Linked DNA regions of Homo sapiens: region 2 is linked to region 1. The links come from fine-mapping of genetic effects on gene expression. A gene starts in region 1. The other region holds a variant in brackets. All regions are shown on one strand. Distances are between the middles of the regions.

Region 1 (2,926 bases):
ATGGTGTTGGGAAAACTGGCTAGCAATTATGCAGAAAACTGAAACTGGTTCCCTTCCTTATACCTTACACAAAAATTAACTCAAGATGGATTAAAGACTTAAATGTTAGACCTAAAACCACAAAAACCCCAGAAGAAAACCTAGGCAATACCATTCAGGACAAAGGCATGGGCAAAGACTTCAATACTAAAACATCAAAATCAATGGCAACAAAAGCCAAAATTGACAAATGGGACCTAATTAAACTAAAGAGCTTCTGCACAGCAAAAGAAACTATCATCAGAGTGAACAGGGAACCTACAGAATGGGAGAAAATTTTTGCAGTCTATCCATTTGACAAAAGGCTAATATCCAGAATCTACAAAGAACTCAAACAAATTTACAAGAAAAAAAAAAAAACCCCAACAAAAAGTGGGCAAAGGATATGAAGACACTTCTCAAAAGAAGACATTTATGCGGCCAAGAAACATATGAAAAAAGCTCATCATCACTGGTCATTAGAGAAATGCAAATCAAAACTACAATGAGATACCATCTCATGCCAGTTAGAATGGCAATCATTAAAAAATCAGGAAACAACAGATGCTGGAGAGGATGTAGAGAAATGGGAATGTTTTCACACTGTTGGTGGGAGTGTAAACTAGTTCAACCATTGTGGAATACAGTGTGGCGATTCCTCAAGGATCTAGAACTAGAAATACCATTTGACCCAGCAATCCCATTACTGGTTATATACCCAAAGGATTATAAATCATGCTGCTATAAAGACACATGCACACTTATGTTTATTGCAGCACTGTTCACAATAGCAAAGACTTGGAACCAACCCAAATGCCCATCAATGATACACTGGATAAAGAAAATGTGGCATATATATACCATGGAATACCATGCAGCCATAAAAAAGGATGAGTTCATGTCCTTTGCAGGGACATGGATGAAGCTGGAAACCATCATTCTCAGCAAACTAACACAAGAACAGAAAGCCAAACAACGCATGTTCTCACTCATAGGTGGGAACTGAACAATGAGAACACATGGACACAGGTAGGGGAACATCATACACTGGGGTATGTCACGGGGTGGGGGGCAAGGGGAGGGATAGCATTAGGAGAAATATCTAATGTAGATGACAAGTTAATAGGTGCAGCACACCAACATGGCATATGTATACATATGTAACAAACCTGCACATTGTGCACATGTACCCTAGAACTTAAAGTATAATTTTAAAAAATCAGTTTTCTTTTGGCTTTTTCTTAGCTTTATACTTAAATATTTTTTTCTAATGTAATTAGAGTGGAATTGTTTTTTGAATTTTATTTTTGGATTACTCATAGCTAGTATATACAATTGCAATTGAATTTTATATTTTGATTTTGTATCTTTTCACCTTGCTGAACTCATTTATTTGTTCTAGTAGATTTTAGGAAATTCCTTACAGACTTTTACATATAAGTTTATGAAAGATGCAATAAAGGACTTTATCTTCTTTTCCAAAAAAAAAAAAAATTTGTGCACTTAGCTCAGAAAAAAGTAAACAAAAAATTAACACAGTTACAAATTAGGATTTTTAGTGCAGGGGAAGAAGTTGTCACCACGCCTCTAAGAGGAAGGGGAAGTCTCAGAAGTATTTTCAGTTTATGACAGAAGGGCAAAAACATTGACTGCCTCAAGGTCTCAAGCACCAGTCTTCACCGCGGAAAGCATGTTGTGGCTGTTCCAATCGCTCCTGTTTGTCTTCTGCTTTGGCCCAGGTAAATGTCAATCCAGATCGGTGTAGTCACTGAGTGACTCCCTGGTTTTGTGCAGCTTGCTCAACCTAAATCGTCTGTATACAGTTGTCTGGCTCTCTGCCAAGGGATTGGGGCGGGAAAGGGGACGCTGGCAGTGTTACCTGATATACTACTACCTCCTCTCAACTTTGGATGCGATAAGCCTGAGATGGTTGTCGGTGAACAATTTCAATTGTGTCTGCATGTAAGAAAGTTATTTGCTGGGGCAGAGGAAATAAGCTTTTGAAGACAAGACTGTTTGTGGTTTATGACCAGCATCTTGTGTTATAAAGAGTACCAAGACCAAGAAAATGGGCCCTCATACCAATGTATCTACTATCGTACTGTGAACCTCAGGGAGGTTACTTATCCTTCCTGAACCTCACTATCCTCATCTAAATTATTAAAAACCTATTATTCAGTTGAGCCAAATTTTCTGGGCCCAACCAAACACACCAAAAATAACCCTCTCACCTTTTGCTCATTGCAAAAAAAAAGGTTTCCATCTCTCCCCTCCTTTAGTGCAAATTAGGGCTAGCTAGTCCAGCAATGCATTATATATGGCAGTGAGAAAAGAATGAACTGATCCAGCTGGCTTCTTGTTTCCTGCTGTCCATTATATGGAGAAGATGAAGATTCATATCACATTTGGGGAACTACAAGTGGTCCACGGGAGACAAAGTGTAGCATTCAGGCAGAGATAGTCCAGGAGACCAATGGAAATCTAGTCCAGAGCTAGCCCAGGGTAGCAGATAAAAGTAGGAAGCATTCACTGAGCACTTATTGTATTTCAAGTATTGTGCCAGGTGCTGTACACACGTTATGAGTCTCATGAGAATTCTATGAATTTATACTATTAATATCTCCATTTTAAAATGAAGAACTGAGGTGAACTTAATTTAAATAATTTGCCCAAATTTCATTAGCCAGCATGCGACAAGCTCTTGTAATAGTTATGAGAAAAAATAACAGTTCAACAAGTGTGGCAGCAGCATAAGAGAAAGAAGAGACTGAAGCAAGAGATCCCATCAATATGGAGTTAAGTAGAGTAATTGGTAATTGGAATGAGAAAGGAATAAATATTCATTGAGCACCTACTGAATGCTTGGCACTCTTCTAGTTTGCATGAATACATCATGAACAAAGCAAGC
Region 2 (2,926 bases), 36 kb after region 1:
CATAACAGGATGGCTGGTCAAGCATCAGCAACTCATCTGTCATGTATCAGCAACTCCCCACCACCCCTAAATAAAGGACCTGCAGGTGGCACATCTCTAAATAATACCATACATTTTGAGAGGCCAGTTTTCTGAAAAATAAGCCAGGAAAGCTTAGCATTTTCAAAATGATGTAAGCAATGATCTAGCTAGAAATCTTGGATTCCCTTCACCTATATTTGCAAAGTATGATCCTTGATGACAGGAAGCAAGAAGGGGTACTCTCACTTGCTCAGACATTTCTTTTGCCTTTGCAAATTCCTCCTGAAAACAAGTCAACTCACACTCTGACAAATCAAAAAACTAATTTCCCACAAATTGGTTAGCTTTCTCTTTAGCAAAAAGAAAAAAAAAATGTGCTTTGGAGAGTTTGAGGTTTTTTTGTTTTTTGTTGGTTTGTTTTTTGTTTTTTGGTTTTTTTTTTTTTTTGAGACAGAGTGTCACTCTGTCACCAAGGGCTGAGTGCAGTAGCACAATCACAGCTCACTGCAGCCTCAACCTCCTCATGCTCAGGTGATCCTTTTACCTTGGCCTCCCAAGTAGCTGCGACTACAGGCGAGCACCATCACATCAGGATAATTTTTCTACTTTTTGTAGAGACGGGGTTTCACCATGTTGCCCAGGCTGGTCTCAAACTTCTGCGCTCAAGTGATCCGCCTGCCTCGTCCTCCCAAAGTGTTGGGTTTACAGGCATGAGCCACTGTGCCCAGTAGAGATCTTGATAATTCTCTAAATACTTCTTCATTAATTTAAAGTGTCAAAATCTTTGAGTAGGTTCTTTGAGGGCCGTAGGGACTTCTGCTATTATTTCTGTAATGTGCATTCCAGGCAGAGCCATTCTTAAGGCCAAGTGTTCCTATTCTACCAATTCCCCATGCTTGAGAAGACCCCAATGACATGATGACAAGGCAGTTAGAATTATAGCAAAAGATGGAGCAGGCAAAATGGGTAGTTTCAGTCATAGCTAGTAAAAATTTGAGACAAAACATATAATAAACTATCTGGTATATAAGTTTTTTCTTAAAAATGGAGGAAGGAAAGTAGAGCTGGACAAAGGACAAGAATACTTCCTTCCCTTCATACAGCAAGGCTGCCTTTCTCTGGCTCTTGAGCCCATTGGTTTGCTGCAGTGTTGCTGTTCTGTTTGGGGCTCAGGAAATGCCACTAAATCCTCACAAGTTT[G/A]ATAGCTAGTCGTGCTTGGTCTTCCACTGAACATTCCCCAGCCTTCCTCTGGAAGAACTTTGACATATTCTCTTTTTTGTCACACAGTCTTTCCTAAGAATATATCTATGCATTAATCTCTTTGTCTCTGTGTAAGCCAAATTGGTATGATTCTTTTTACAGGAAACAGAAATCTGGACACCTAGAGAAAATGATACTATCACAATTTACTCCACAATTAATCATTCCAAAGAGGTAAGCCCACGATTGCTCCATGTTTTTATATTCTTACCTCTCTCCACAGACCTATGATTTTTCAAATAAAGTAAAAATAAAAGGGTCATTTTACAGATGCACAAACAGCAGCAGCATGCGGAAAGTCTCAGGACATCACCAAAACATAATCAAGAAGTTATTTTGTATTAGGATCACCATGCATAACTGAGTTTTCAATTACATGTTTTTAAATTTAATCCTGCCCTATGCTATCAATATCTCTATTATCTGCCTCTCTGTAGTCTCCAGTCCTCTCTCTGTAGTTATGAGGGGTGGGCTGAGGTTCCAGTTCCAATTAACCTACCTCATCTTCCTCTTTTTCCCACAGAGTAAACCCACTTTTTCCAGGGCAACTGCCCTTGACAATGTCGTGTAAGTTGCTGAAAGGCCTCAGAGGAATTCGGGAATGACACGTCTTCTGATCCCATGAGACAGAACAAAGAACAGGAAGCTTGGTTCCTGTTGTTCCTGGCAACAGAATTTGAATATCTAGGATAGGATGATCACCTCCAGTCCTTCGGACTTAAACCTGCCTACCTGAGTCAAACACCTAAGGATAACATCATTTCCAGCATGTGGTTCAAATAATATTTTCCAATCCACTTCAGGCCAAAACATGCTAAAGATAACACACCAGCACATTGACTCTCTCTTTGATAACTAAGCAAATGGAATTATGGTTGACAGAGAGTTTATGATCCAGAAGACAACCACTTCTCTCCTTTTAGAAAGCAGCAGGATTGACTTATTGAGAAATAATGCAGTGTGTTGGTTACATGTGTAGTCTCTGGAGTTGGATGGGCCCATCCTGATACAAGTTGAGCATCCCTTGTCTGAAATGCTTGGGATTAGAAATGTTTCAGATTTCAATTTTTTTTCAGATTTTGGAATATTTGCATTATATTTAGCGGTTGAGTATCCAAATCCAAAAATCCAAAATTCAAAATGCTCCAATAAGCATTTCCCTTGAGTTTCATTGATGTCGATGCAGTGCTCAAAATCTCAGATTTTGGAGCATTTTGGATATTGGATTTTTGGATTTGGGATGCTCAACTTGTACAATGTTTATTAGACACATCTCCTGGGACATACTGCCTAACCTTTTGGAGCCTTAGTCTCCCAGACTGAAAAAGGAAGAGGATGGTATTACATCAGCTCCATTGTTTGAGCCAAGAATCTAAGTCATCCCTGACTCCAGTGTCTTTGTCACCAGGCCCTTTGGACTCTACCTCAGAAATATTTCTTGGACCTTCCACTTCTCCTCCAACTCCTTGACCACCATCCTGTATCCAACCATCACCACCTCTAACCTGAATCCTACCTTAAGATCAGAACAGTTGTCCTCACTTTTGTTCTTGTCCCTCTCCAACCCACTCTCCACAAGATGGCCAGAGTAATGTTTTTAATATAAATTGGATCCTTCAGTTTCCTGCTTAAAACCCTGCAGGTT

What was found. PIP is the estimated chance that this variant, and not a neighbour inherited with it, causes the effect.
Region 2: its variant is fine-mapped to the expression of SLAMF6 in whole blood (INTERVAL, PIP 0.98).

What each region holds. Positions count from the first base shown.
Region 1 is chr1:160,521,975-160,524,900 of GRCh38, reverse strand. It overlaps SLAMF6 (SLAM family member 6), which reads left to right and starts at 1,646. Exons shown (of 8, transcript NM_001184714.2): 1 at 1,646-1,757. The coding sequence starts at 1,709. RefSeq lists an enhancer at 1,812-1,861.
Region 2 is chr1:160,485,633-160,488,558 of GRCh38, reverse strand. It overlaps SLAMF6 (SLAM family member 6), which reads left to right. Exons shown (of 8, transcript NM_001184714.2): 7 at 1,384-1,455; 8 at 1,805-2,926. The coding sequence ends at 1,852. Among named protein-coding and RNA genes, the nearest start is that of SLAMF6, 36 kb to the left of the region's middle. The variant G/A (reference allele first, on the strand shown) is at 1,222.